Homo sapiens: one gene and its partner. The protein of the gene in region 2 interacts with the protein of the main gene of each other region in a pairwise test. Each region holds a gene or a part of one and is shown on either strand. Other genes may lie near its edges.

What was found.
Region 1: the proteins of RP9 (region 2) and CIRSR interact in a two-hybrid assay, tested with the Homo sapiens proteins (one study listed by BioGRID).

What each region holds. Positions count from the first base shown.
Region 1 is NC_000002.12:174,378,582-174,385,874, forward strand, and holds part of CIRSR (corepressor interacting with RBPJ 1), read right to left. Parts: intron 3,197-7,293; coding exon 3,123-3,196; intron 2,234-3,122; coding exon 2,223-2,233; intron 2,135-2,222; coding exon 2,070-2,134; intron 1,670-2,069; coding exon 1,621-1,669; intron 460-1,620; coding exon 342-459; intron 1-341. UniProt on the Homo sapiens protein: May modulate splice site selection during alternative splicing of pre-mRNAs. Regulates transcription and acts as corepressor for RBPJ. Recruits RBPJ to the Sin3-histone deacetylase complex (HDAC). Required for RBPJ-mediated repression of transcription.
Region 2 is NC_000007.14:33,094,153-33,099,553, forward strand, and holds the end of RP9 (retinitis pigmentosa 9 protein), read right to left. Parts: intron 5,285-5,401; coding exon 5,155-5,284; intron 3,211-5,154; coding exon 3,119-3,210; intron 2,403-3,118; coding exon 2,341-2,402; intron 1,281-2,340; coding exon 1,082-1,280; 3' UTR 645-1,081; downstream 1-644. UniProt on the Homo sapiens protein: Is thought to be a target protein for the PIM1 kinase. May play some roles in B-cell proliferation in association with PIM1.

The DNA of each region.
Region 1 (7,293 bases), on a different chromosome or scaffold from region 2:
TTTATAATTCAGGATATGAGTATGAGAAATAAGCATTTTTTCCTTCCATTTTTAGGCTACTAGCCTGATAAACTATGTTTAATGTATTTTACTTTAAAACTTAGTTCATAGGGCCTTTGGCTGGAAAAATTAAACTTAATCCTATTACACAGCATTTTAATTCAACATATATGATCAGAGTTTCCCATTAATCATATTTTGGGAATGGTCTTAGTCAAAAACAAACAAACAAGCCCCACACACAAACCCAAATAAAACAATACCCAGAAAGAGTAAAGAAAAATGTTGTTTTATCTTTCCTTGTTTGTCCTCTCCCGAAACAAATCATGTCTAGTGCCTACCTGAGCCATCAGTGGGAACCGAACTTGCATTGATTCCAGAAAGACCAAACAAAGGACATTCTCGATCTGTGTTGACATGACCCCATTTGTGACATTTAATGCACCTCACATTTCGAACCTGAGAAATAATGAATGTGATTTTGGTTACTAAAAAAGTAAGAATCTAACCAATGTTCAAATTCCTATTCCTTGATAGAATTTAAGCTAAATTACATTTTTAAAAGATCTCCAGGGAAAAAGACTCCAAACTATGTTTGGTAATTTAATACAAAGACTAAAATCTTTCACTATAAATTTTGCCTAGAAACTAAGCTGAATCCCATTTCTTTTTGCCTCTCACTTGGTGGCAATATAATGTCATCCAAAAAGAAATGGTAAAATACCAAAAAGAATTAGGGCGTTATGTGAAGAATTTAAGCTTAAATTCTCTCATTTTAATAAGTAAACCTTTAAAGTTTCAAATTTCAAAACCTGGAGCTGGTAAACATTTTCTGTAAAGGTCCAAATGTAGTCAATATTTTAGGCTTTTTGGGACAGATGTTGTCTATTCTAACGACTCAACTCTGCTGCTGCAGTGGGAAAGCAGCCACAGCCAATAAGTAAATGAATAGGCAAAGCGGTGTTCCAATAAAACTTTCTTTACAAGGATTTGCCCTCTGATGATAGTCTGTCCCGATTCTAAACCAATAATAGATTTAAATCTTTTCTTGACCTTGAGCTGATTCTCCAAATTTTTTGAAAACTGCAGAGACCAATATCATTATAGCTCTCACTATAAAAGTTTGATTCCTGTCTTTTTTTTTTTTTTTTTTTTTTTTTGAGATGGAGTCTCGCTCTATTGCCCAGGCTGGAGTGCAATGGTGCAGTCTCGGCTCACTGCAACCTCCACCTCCTGGGTTCCAGCGATTCTCCTGCCTCAGCCTCCTGAGTAGCTGGGATTACAGGCGCCTGCCACCATGGCTAGCTAATTTTTTGCATTTTTAGTAGAGACAGGGTTTCACCATGTCGGCCTGGCTGGTCTCGAACTCCTGACCTTGTGATCCGCCCGCCTCGGCCTCCCAAAGCGCTGAAATTACAGGCATGAGCCACCACACCCAGCCTGATTTCTGTCTTTTATCAGCCTACTACATTTTATGTTTTCTCCTCTATTCCTTATATTATCTGATACAAATAAAAACCATAGTGCCCCTTTTCAGCTTAAACACCTTTTAGACAACAATATAAAGATACATTTATTAAATAAAAATTATTCTTACAGAGTAAAATATGTGTCACTTGCCTGAATACCAAAGGGCTGATCTCTGATGTTCATGTCATCTTTGGCATATCTATTAAATAGAGGAAATGTACAAACACAATATTAAGAATAATTTAAAAAATTAAACAGCAGTTAATCAGAAAAATAGTTTTACAGTTCTAAGAACATTATGAAATATATTACTTCAGTAAGAATACAGAACTATAAAATCTATCTAGTATTTCCAAACACCATTTAGTTATTATGTGTCTAGTCTGATAATTTGTGATATTAAAAAAATGAAAAAGTATATAAAACAAAAGACTATGAGCAAGCAGATTAGTTGAATAAGACAGCTAATTAAAATCATTAAAGATAACTTTTCACATCAGTTGCCTCCTCTAATGATTGAAAAAGCAACATAAGATGGGATATCAGTAAATGTAAACTTAATGATACATATCTTGTCTTAAAAGTAAACCAGTCCTTACTTTTCTCGTGGGGCTCCTTTCTGCCATTCAAATTTGTATTCGGTCTCTCCTTCTGTTTCTTCTTTCTAAAAACATTCATTGAAAATTCTTTTAATTTTTCCATATAATACAATCAACTGCAAGTAAATTCAGACATAGAAAATAGTACTTTACCTCTTTGTTTTCTTGATTGCATATCAAAAATATGGAAGAAAAAAGGTATGACAAGTTAAAAACTTCAATATAAAAATCTACTGTATACACTATGATATCATGTTATTTAATTGTCACTTGTAAGAATTCATTGGTTTGACTTTTTTTCTTCTTTCACATGATAAAAATTCAGACTATTGCAGGACAAAATACAAAATTAAAATTAATAAGTATGTTAATTCACAGTTTTTAAACTTTTCACTGTTCATTGACAGTGAATATTATGTTTTTTATTTACAAATGCATTAAATATTTAGTAAGAAGGACTAAAGATACATATGCAAATTATTAAAGAATAAGTGTACTTTGGACATGAAAGTTTCTTCCTTCTCAAAGGGCACATTATGAAATATTATCAGATTAGAAAGATATTTTTTAGTATTTATTCTGTTGTATGATTATAGTTTTTATTATCTTCACAGGATAACAGCAATTTTAAAAGATGGAGAGCAACTTTAAAAAAATATCTGTCATAGTACTTTTCCATGTTTAGCTGCAAACACATCAAAGACTTAAAAGAAAAGGAAGGAGGCCAGGTGCGGTGGCTCACGCTTGTAATCCCAGCACTTTGGGAGGCCGAGGTAGGTGGATCACGAGGTCAGGAGTTCAAGACCAGCCTGGCCAACATGGTGAAACTCTGTCTCTATTAAAGATACAAAAATTAGCCAGGCGTGGTGGCGTGCTCCTGTAATCCCAACTACTCGGGAGGCTGAGGCAGGAGAATTGCTCCAACTCAGGAGGTGGATGGAGGTTGTAGTGTGCTGAGATGGCACCACTGCACTCCAGCCTGGACGACAGGGCAAGACTGTGCCTCAGAAAAAAAAAAAAGAAAGAAAAAAAGAAACGGAAGAAGATAAGTACCTTTTTTAGCTCCTGGTGGGGCTTCATACATGAAATTAAGGCCATTCTTTACACGTTCATCTCCCATAAGCAATCTAAGTGAAACAAGACAAAGTTAACGATTTTATGTAGGACAAAAAAAAAAATTATAGAATAATCCACTCCCCACCAAAAAGCCTAAGGGAATTAAGATAAAATATTTTTGTTAGAAACAGAGTTCTAAAACTTTACTCCACTAACTAGATTACATCTGAATGGAAATTAAACAGTGCTGTCTCTTTAGTAACTAGTTATAAGCTCTGAGACTTTCTTACTACCTGAGAGATCCTACCCATCCTAACAAAAAAGGGGAAAAATAACATGGTCATTTTTCTTACAGGATTTTCTTAAACCCTGAAATGCTGTGGAAATTATGACAACTTTGAAATCCCATATGCCATCACAAATTTACAATTAAGTTAAATAGTGCCAACACTTTTTCTTGATTGTAAGGGATCAAACGGTTTTGTTTTTTCCCACCAAAAAAAGAAAAGGCAAAGGAATCAGTTTTGGAAAAAATAAGTCTCTCAGGGATTTCTTTAGGAAGTCAAATCCAATCAGGGCTTGTAAGAGTCACAGTAAATGAGAAAATAAAATTCTTTCGTGAGGCCAGTGAAAAAAGAATAAAAGTCTGCAGCTGGGCACAGTGGCTCACACCTGTAATCCCAGCACGCTGGGAGGCCAAAGCAAGTAGATCACCTGAGGTCAGGAGTTTGAGACCAGCCTGGTCAACATGCAGAAACCCCGTCTCTACCAAAAATACAAAAATTAGCCAGGCGTAGTGCTGCGTGCCTGTAATCCCAGCTACTCGGGAGGCTGAGGCAGGAGAATCACTTGAATGTGGGAGGCGGAGGTTGCAGTGAGCCGAGATCGTGCCACTGGACTCCAGCCTGGGCGACAGAGCCAGGCTCTGTCTCAAAAACAACAATAGCAAAAAAGTCTACACATGCCAAGTAGTATGATGGACTCAGTGTCTGGTGCATGACAAAAATCACATTCTTTATAGTTCTGTTTTAACACTCAAAGTTCCCTGTTTGAGCTCTGTTTAAAAAAAGATACACTAGGCTTTTTAGAAAAAAAAAGCTCTGTAACAAATGGAATGACTGGTTCAGTCAAAGTTTTAATTCATAAGATCCAAGTAAAAATAATAAAGAAGGAGGCTAAAGAGTGAATATAATTTCTCCTTATATTTGGAAAAGACAATCACAAAGGATATATGACATGAGTATAATTCCTCTCCTTATATCCACTGGATTCTATAAAGACCTGTAAAAAAGAAGCAAAAGGCCACAGGGATCTACATCCAATATATGTAGATATAAATAGAGTGATATTCAGCAATAAAAGGGACTGAAGTACTAGTATATGCAATACCGTGGGTCAACTTCAAAAGCATTATGCTATGTGAAAGAAGCCAGTCACAAAAGACCACATGACATATGATCTAATTTATAGGTCATGTCCAGAATAGGTAAATCTATAGAGACAGCAAGTAAATTAGTGGCTGCTCAGTGCTGAGAGGTAGAAGGAGAAAAAGGCAGGGGAATGAGAAGTGACTGCTAATGGGTAGAAGATTTCTTTTTTGGATAATGCAAATGTTCTGAAATTAGATTACAGTGATGGCTCCAAAAGTCTAAATATACTTAAAAACAACAAACACTTTAAACAGGTGTATAAGTTACATTTTAAATTCACATCATTAAAAATATCAAAATCAGCTGGGCACGGGGGCTCACATCTGTAATCCCAGCACTTTGGGAGGCTGAGGCGGGTGGATCACCTCAGGTCAGGAGTTCGAGACCAGCTTGGCCAACATGGTGAAACTCCGTCTCTACTAAAAATACAAAAATTAGCCGGGCGTGGTGGCAGGCACCTGTAGTCCCAGCTATTTGGGAGGCTGAGGCACAAAAATCGCTTGAACCTCGCAGGCAGAGGTTGGAGTGAGCCGAGATCGCACCACTGCACTCCAGGCTGGGTGATAGAGTGAGACTCCGTCTCAAAAAAAAAAAAAAAAAAAAATCAAAATCAAATACACTGAAAGCCAAGCTCGGTATCACTAGTTATTAGGGAAATGCAAATCAAAATCACAATGAGATATCACCTTGCACCTACTGGCTAGCTATCTTCCAAAAAAAAAAAAAAAAAAGAAAATAACAAATGTTAGAGAGGATATGGAGAAACTGAAACCCAAGTCCATTACTAGTAGGAAATGTAAAATTGTGTAGTCACTGTGACAACCAGTTTCATGGTTCCTCAAAACGCTAAATATAAACCTACCATGTGATCCAGCAATTCCACTCCTAGGTATATACCCAAAGGAACTAAAAACAAGGACTTGACCAGGTATTTCTATGCCAATGTTTATAGCAGCATTATTCACAATAGCCAAAAGGTGGAAGTAACCCAATACTCAAACAGATGGATAAACAAAATGTGGTATGTACATACAAAAGAGAATTATTCAGCCACAAAAAGGAATACAGTGCTGATACATATTACAACATATATGAACCTTGGACACATTATACTAAGTGAAACAAGCCAGACACAAAGGAACAAATATATGATTCAATTTATATGAGGCATTTAGAATAGGCAAATTCATAGACACAGAAAGTAGAATGGTGGTTGCCAGGGGCTGTGGGCCAAGGGGAATAGGGAATTATTCTTTAATGGTTTAATGGTTACAAAGTTTCTGTTTGAGATAACGAAAAAGTTTTGGAAATGATGATGGTTCACCACACTGAATTTAAGGGTACACTGAATTGCACACTTAAAATGGTAAATTTTATGCAATATATATTTTACAAAAAAACCCACAGACAAACCATTTCATTTATATGTGTATTTTTTATTTATTTCTCTTTGTTTTTTGGGGTTTTTTTTAGAGACAAAGTCTCACTATGTTGCCCATGCTGGTCTCAAACTCCTGGACTCAAGCAATCCTCCTGCCACAAAGTGTTGGGATTACAGGCATAAGCCATTGTGCCCAGCCCAATTCATTTATATTGAAAAAAAATAATAATAAAACCCAAACTAAAAGATTGTTTTCCACTTTATGCAAAATTCAAGACATATATAAAATAAAAGGTAAAGGTATAATATTGGTATTTTTGTTTCAACCTCAACTGAAAATTTACATAGATTTTTTTGACATCCCATAAAATCTTTGTATGTATCTAGACAGAATAATAAATGTGATTTTCAGCTGGGCATGGCGGCTCATGCCTGTAATCCCAGCACTTTGGGAGGCCAAGGCGGGAGGATTGCTTGAGTCCAGGAGTTCAAGATCAGACTGATCAACACAGTGAGTGAGAGACCCTGTCTCTACAAAAAAGAAAAAATTAGCTGGGTGTGGTGGTGTGTGCCTGTAGTTCCAGCTATTCAGGAGACCGAAGCAGGAGGATCGCTTGAACCCAGAAGTTTGAGGCTGCAGTGAGACATAATCATACCACTGCACTCCAGCCTGGGCAACAGAGTGAGACCTTCCTCTCAAAAAAAAAAAAAAAAAAAAAATTTTTTTTTTCATCTTAGGAAAAAAGTATAAAGCGACTAAGGTGATTGATATAATAAACATTAAGAAATCTCTAGGACAGTAAAAACAAAAGAGAAACAATAGATTACTGAAGAATGAAATTGGCTATCAAAAACAGTACTTTTGAATGAGGAAGAAATAAACACTTGGCAAATGACCAATTACTCATAAATTTGCATTCAAATGACCAAACCTAGAAGTAATAATATCTTAGTAGCAATGAACACACTTAGTGCTCAGATCGTGGTTTCTAAATATCATTCACCAATGAAAGGAATCTGGGTGCCTAAGAAAACTGGTTGATTCCAATGCTGCAGCAGGGAAAATAAAAGACGAGTCTGACCACCTTGTGGGACCAGAAGCAGCATTAAAAAAACAAAACAAAACAGGGTTGGTGCATGTTAAATGGATATACGAGCCAATCTAACAGAGCTCTCAATGGCCCAAACTGAAACAACTGGAGCAAGAAAATAAGTAACAATAGTATTATATTATAATCCAAAGAATTAAATAAACAGCCATGAGTCCATATTGATAGAAAATTAATAGTAACTAGATAAGGGAAATTCTTCCTTACAGAGGAATTCAAATTAATAAATGTAGAGGGAATGATAGAAA
Region 2 (5,401 bases):
ACACTGCTGATATGGCAGTAAAGCCAAATGTACTTGATATATAAAAACAGTGGGCCCACCCTATCAGCAGGTTCTACATTCGTGAATTCATCAAACTACAGATAGAAAATATTCAAAAAAATAAATGGATGGTTCTGTCTCTATGGAACATGTGCAGACTCTCTTTCTTGCCCTTATTCCCTAAACAATACATTATAACAACTATTTACATTGTATTAGGTGTTAGAAGTGATCTACAGATGAATTAAAGTATATGGGAAGATGTGTGTAGGGAACAGGCAAATAGCACGCCATTTAATATAAGGGACTTGGGCATCCACGGATTTTGGTATCTGTGAGGGATTGAGGGAGTTGGTCCTGGATCCAACCCCCTCAGATACTGACCACTGTAAGGTTCATACTTCTAAGTTTAAAATGTAACTATGTGTGAGTGAATGTGGATAGCATTTGCTAAGAAAAGCCCTGTACTTACTTGTGATATATAAAATATTCACAAGAAACTAGTACCACTGGTAGACATTGGGGAAGGTAACTGGAGTGGAAAGGAAGAAAGTAGAGTTTTCATGATTAAATATTATGTACCTTTTAAATTTGTATTAGGTATTATTTGTACTTATGTATTATTCATAAATAAATACATTCCATTTAAAAAATAAATAATGAGCTTTTATTATTCTCAACAACAGAGAAGACTCCAGCCTGATGTCTATGGGACCTGAGTCCACACTGTGGAGGGCACAAGCTGTGGGAGGGCCTGGAAGACACGCCTCAGAGATTCTCCCAGTCCTGCCACCCTGTGGGAGACACTTCAAAGGAATCGTAAACTCATGTGACCAGCAGGGAGGACAACGATGAAGAAACTTTCCTGCCTAAAATCAGCTGCTGTCCAGAGCTAGCACCTGGAAGGAGACACTCCCTCTCCTGGGGTCACATCTTCACTGCAAGGCGGGTGGGAGCTCACTGCTGTGACCCACATATACTCCTCTCTCGGCGTCTCTATCCTGCTGCTTTCTCTGACTGCATCTTCCTCTGTTCCTTGGTCAGTGTTTGAGAAGAGAATGTTGAACAAGTCACATCCTTGTCACTCTGAGTCAGAACCCTCATTTGACTTGGAAGATTTGTGCTTCCGTTTTTTCTTCTTTTTCTTTTCTTTCTTCCTTTTCTTATGCTTTTCTTTCTTCTTCTTTTTCTTGTGTTTCTCTTTACCTTCAGAGGAACTGGAGCTGCTCCTATCTTCATCTGAGGTAGAATCCTCCAGTAACTGTTTTAACTGCTGTATCCTAAACATTCAAAATTGATCAAAGAACAGTGAGTTTTAGCTTTAACTTACAACAGTTGCTTAGATAAATATGTCATTCAAAAGCAGTATAGGATGATGAATAACCATGTCACAAAGACAGTATTTTTATTTTTACCTGTTTTCTCATTCTTCTCCACCTGAATGCCTACTTTACGTGACTGAAACCAGTGTACAAGCCACTTTGTATTCTTTTTATTGTCCTAGACATTTCTGCATGTTTCCACAGTCCTTACAATTGTAATTTCTAACAGACGCATACTTTACTAAACCATTCCCCTACTGCTCAATTTCTTAATCTACATCTTTAACAGTTATAATGCCACCAATTTGAAAAAACAAACCCTCCAATTTTTTCCACCTCTCTCTAATCATGTCTAATTTTTTTCTTTTTTTTTTAGAGACAGGGTCTTCCTCTGTCACCTAGGCTGGAGTGCAGTGGTGCAATCATGGCTTACTGCAGCCTCAACCTACTGGGGTCAAGTAGATCCTCCCACCTCATCCTCCCGAGTGGCTGGAACTACAGGTGCGTGCTGCCATACTTGGCTACTTTTTATATTTTTTTGTAAAGATGGGGTTTTGCTGTATGGCCCAGGCTGGTCTCAAACGCCTGGACTTCAGCGATCCGCTGGCCTCGGCCTCCCAAAGTGTTAGGATTACAGGTGTGAGCCACTGAGCCTGGCCTAAGTATAATTTTTAACAAAAGCTCACATCCCTAAAGACTCTGGAGAAGATAAACTGAATCACATGAAAATATCAATTATACTGTACAAGTAGACAGCACAACATGGGTTGCCAACATCAACTGCAGTGGCCAGAGAGCTGGACCAAGCCCATGGCTTTAAGTTAACCCAAGGAGGAGGAGGCTGGCCTGCTCATTCCCCAACACTGGCCTTTTCAGCCATGACTCCTGCACTCCACATATTTTCACAATTGAAGTACCATGTTTACTGCACCATTCCTCTAACACTAGAGTGGTTTTCTCCAACTTTATATAATTTTAAAACTTTAAGGGGATATTGTTATCATCAGGACGACCTCACCTTACGTCCTTTTCATGTCGTTTATTGTCTCGTATGATGTCATACATGGGATCTTCATGTGCCTTAAGGGTCAGAGAAGGTTAAGGTTTGGTTAGGCTTCATGGATCACAAGTTAAATACAATGAAATGCCTATGTTATGAAAACCAGTTTATTTTTTTTTTTACTGTTTGATGTAGCTGCATGTTCAACATGTTCTAGGTCACATCACTGAAAACTCATTAAGGCTAAAAAATGGATTTTCCAATTAGAAAAATACAGGAAATGGCTACTCTCAGCACACTGTCTTTGGGGTAGCCCTGCTCTGCAGGAGCAATCACAGAGCTATAACACTGCCACCTCAAAAACAAAGAAAAATACAGGGAATAACTGTCATCTAAAGAAAAAATATACGGACACTTTAATCTTACAGTTTAAAGACATGTACTCTTTAAAGACCGGGAAATTAAATCCCTGATTTCAGTCATGAAACATGACTTTTTTACACAGTAAATTTTAAAAAGTGCGGTTGAATAGATAACAATGTCTGTTTCAGAAAAAAAATCACTGTTCCAAGTTACAAACAAAGATCACTTTAATAAGAATTCCTTTTTTTTGTAAAAGAGCTAATTTGTCATACAAATGTAATTTAATAAGCATGTAGTTAACAGCACACACTTTGGTCAAAGGGCTTCTGGGAATGTATTTTATGTGACCATTCAAGTTCACTGGTGACTTTCTGCTTCACTGATTTTCACTATCTCTGATAAATGTAAATTGACACTCTTGGACTTTACTTACCACTCTGAACTGCTCTAACTTTTGGTTGCCTTTGATAAAGAAAGGGCATTCTTTGTCACCCGTTCGGTGACCATAGCGTTTGCAACGCCAACCTAAAAACGAAAAGAGAAATATTTCTGTAAGATAACAGTTTCACCTACTCAAGATAAAGAATCAGCAGAATATATTCAAGTTTTTCTTCATTAAACTCTAATTCTAAAACAAAATATAATTATGGACAAGCCATGTAAGATCCCAGAAACAGAGGTAAACTAATTGCTTCCCCAAGCATCCTTTAGTCTTATACCTTTAGGAATAATATTCTATCACCAAGTATTTATGAAGCAATCCAATGGAGAATTACTTCAAAAGGTGAATTTTTTTTTTTGAGATGGAGTCCTGCTCTGTCGCTCAGGCTGGAGTGCAGTGGCGTGATCTCAGCTCACTGCAACCTCTGCCTCCTGGGTTCAAGATATTCTTCTATTTCAGCCTCCTGGGTAGCTGGGATTACAGGTGCGTACCACCACACCCAGCTAATTTTTGTATTTTTAGCAGAGATGGGGTTTTGCCATGTTGCCCAGGCTGGTCTTCAACTCCTGACCTCAGGTGATCCGCCCGCCTCAGCCTCCCAAAGTGCTGGGATTACAGGCGTGAGCCACCACGCCCGGCCCAAAAGGTACATTTTTTTTAAAGTGTGTTTCAGTATATTTTTCAGAGTAAATGTTTTCATAAAGTATCTCTGCTTCTCATTTACTATTTTAGACACTATAAAAGCTTCTTTCTCAGGTTGAGTCTGTTCAAAACTCTCACTTTTAAGTAAATAAAATCACAAGTTCTCTTAGAATATTAATGGTGGCTGGGCACAGTGGCTCCTACCTGTAATCCTAGCACTTTGGGAGGCAGAGGCGGGTAGATCGCTTGAGGCCAGGAGTTCGAGACTAGCTTAGGCAACATGGTGAAACCCTATCTCTACAAAAGTACAAAAAAATTAGCTAAGCCTGGTGGCGCATGCCTGTAGTCCCAGCTATCTCAGAGGCTGATGTGAGATCACCTGATTCTGGGAGGTTGAGGCTGCAGTAAGTTGTGATCACACCACTGCACTCCAGCCCGGGTGACAGAGTGAGACCCTGTTTTCCTGACCCTGGTAGAAGGTTGTTTAATGTGTGGAAAAGGTAAAACAGAGGGTCTCTGGCCAGGGAGACCAGGGAGACATCAGGTAGGTCTGAAGGAAGCTGCTGCAATAGCCACAAAGGGTCACACGAATGAATGAAAAGCAGATGGACACATTTCCAGACTCCCTCCACTCGGCTCCCAGAACACTCATAGTATGGCTTTCCCTCCACGTGGGAGCCTTCTCTGGGAAAATATAACCCACCCAAAGAAGAAAAACCGATAGATACTGAACTCTGAGGCACGTTGTCTTTGCTTTTAACAAATAATCAAGGCAATGAAGCATTCCCATCAAAATTCTCAAGGAAACTGATTTTTAAATTAGAATTCAATATCCTGGTAGTTAAAAATCTGTTAAAGACGATTCCAGAAAAGTAAAGGTCTTAACATTTTTATCTTCTATAAACCCATTTTGAAGGTAACAGCCATAGGATTTGTTACACCATAAGGAGAGAATATGATAATAAAGAAGACTCAAGACACAGGAAAATGGGTGATCCAACACGGGAGAGAGGCTAAGGGGACCTGCAGAAAGATGGTGTCTTAGTCAGCTCGGGCTGACATAACAAAATGCCGTATTCTGGGTGGCCTAAACAACAGAAACTGGTTTTCTCATTCATTCTGTAGGTTGGAAATCTGAGATCAGGGTCCCAGCAAGGTGGGTTTGTGGTGAGAGCTTTCTTCCTGGCTTAAGATGACAGCCCTCTTTCTTCTTCACATGGCACGGTGGTGGGGGGTGGGGTGGATGCTTCCTTATCTAGAAGATGGAGAACGTGCCTTGGCTGTAAGAGGGCTGTGATGAGAACAAGTTAAATAAAAGAAGTAAACACTCTTTGTAAATTGAGGCATGTAAGTTGCATGGATTAGGGAAACTCTCCCACACTCACACTGCATAACTTTGACTTCTTTCCCCAGTGGCATCCAAAGTCCTTTAGTTGGTGCATGAGCCAGAAATTCCCTGGCGTGTTCATTGCCTGGTACATCTGGTATGCAATCTTCTGGCTTAGTCTCATCTTCCTAAAAAAGGGAACAGGTATAAACAGCATGGCAAGAGCGCTGGGATTCTCTCCTGCTCCCCTTGGAGCCACCCTTGCCTGGCTTTTTCCTGGGCTTCCGGTGCCAACATCATCTTAG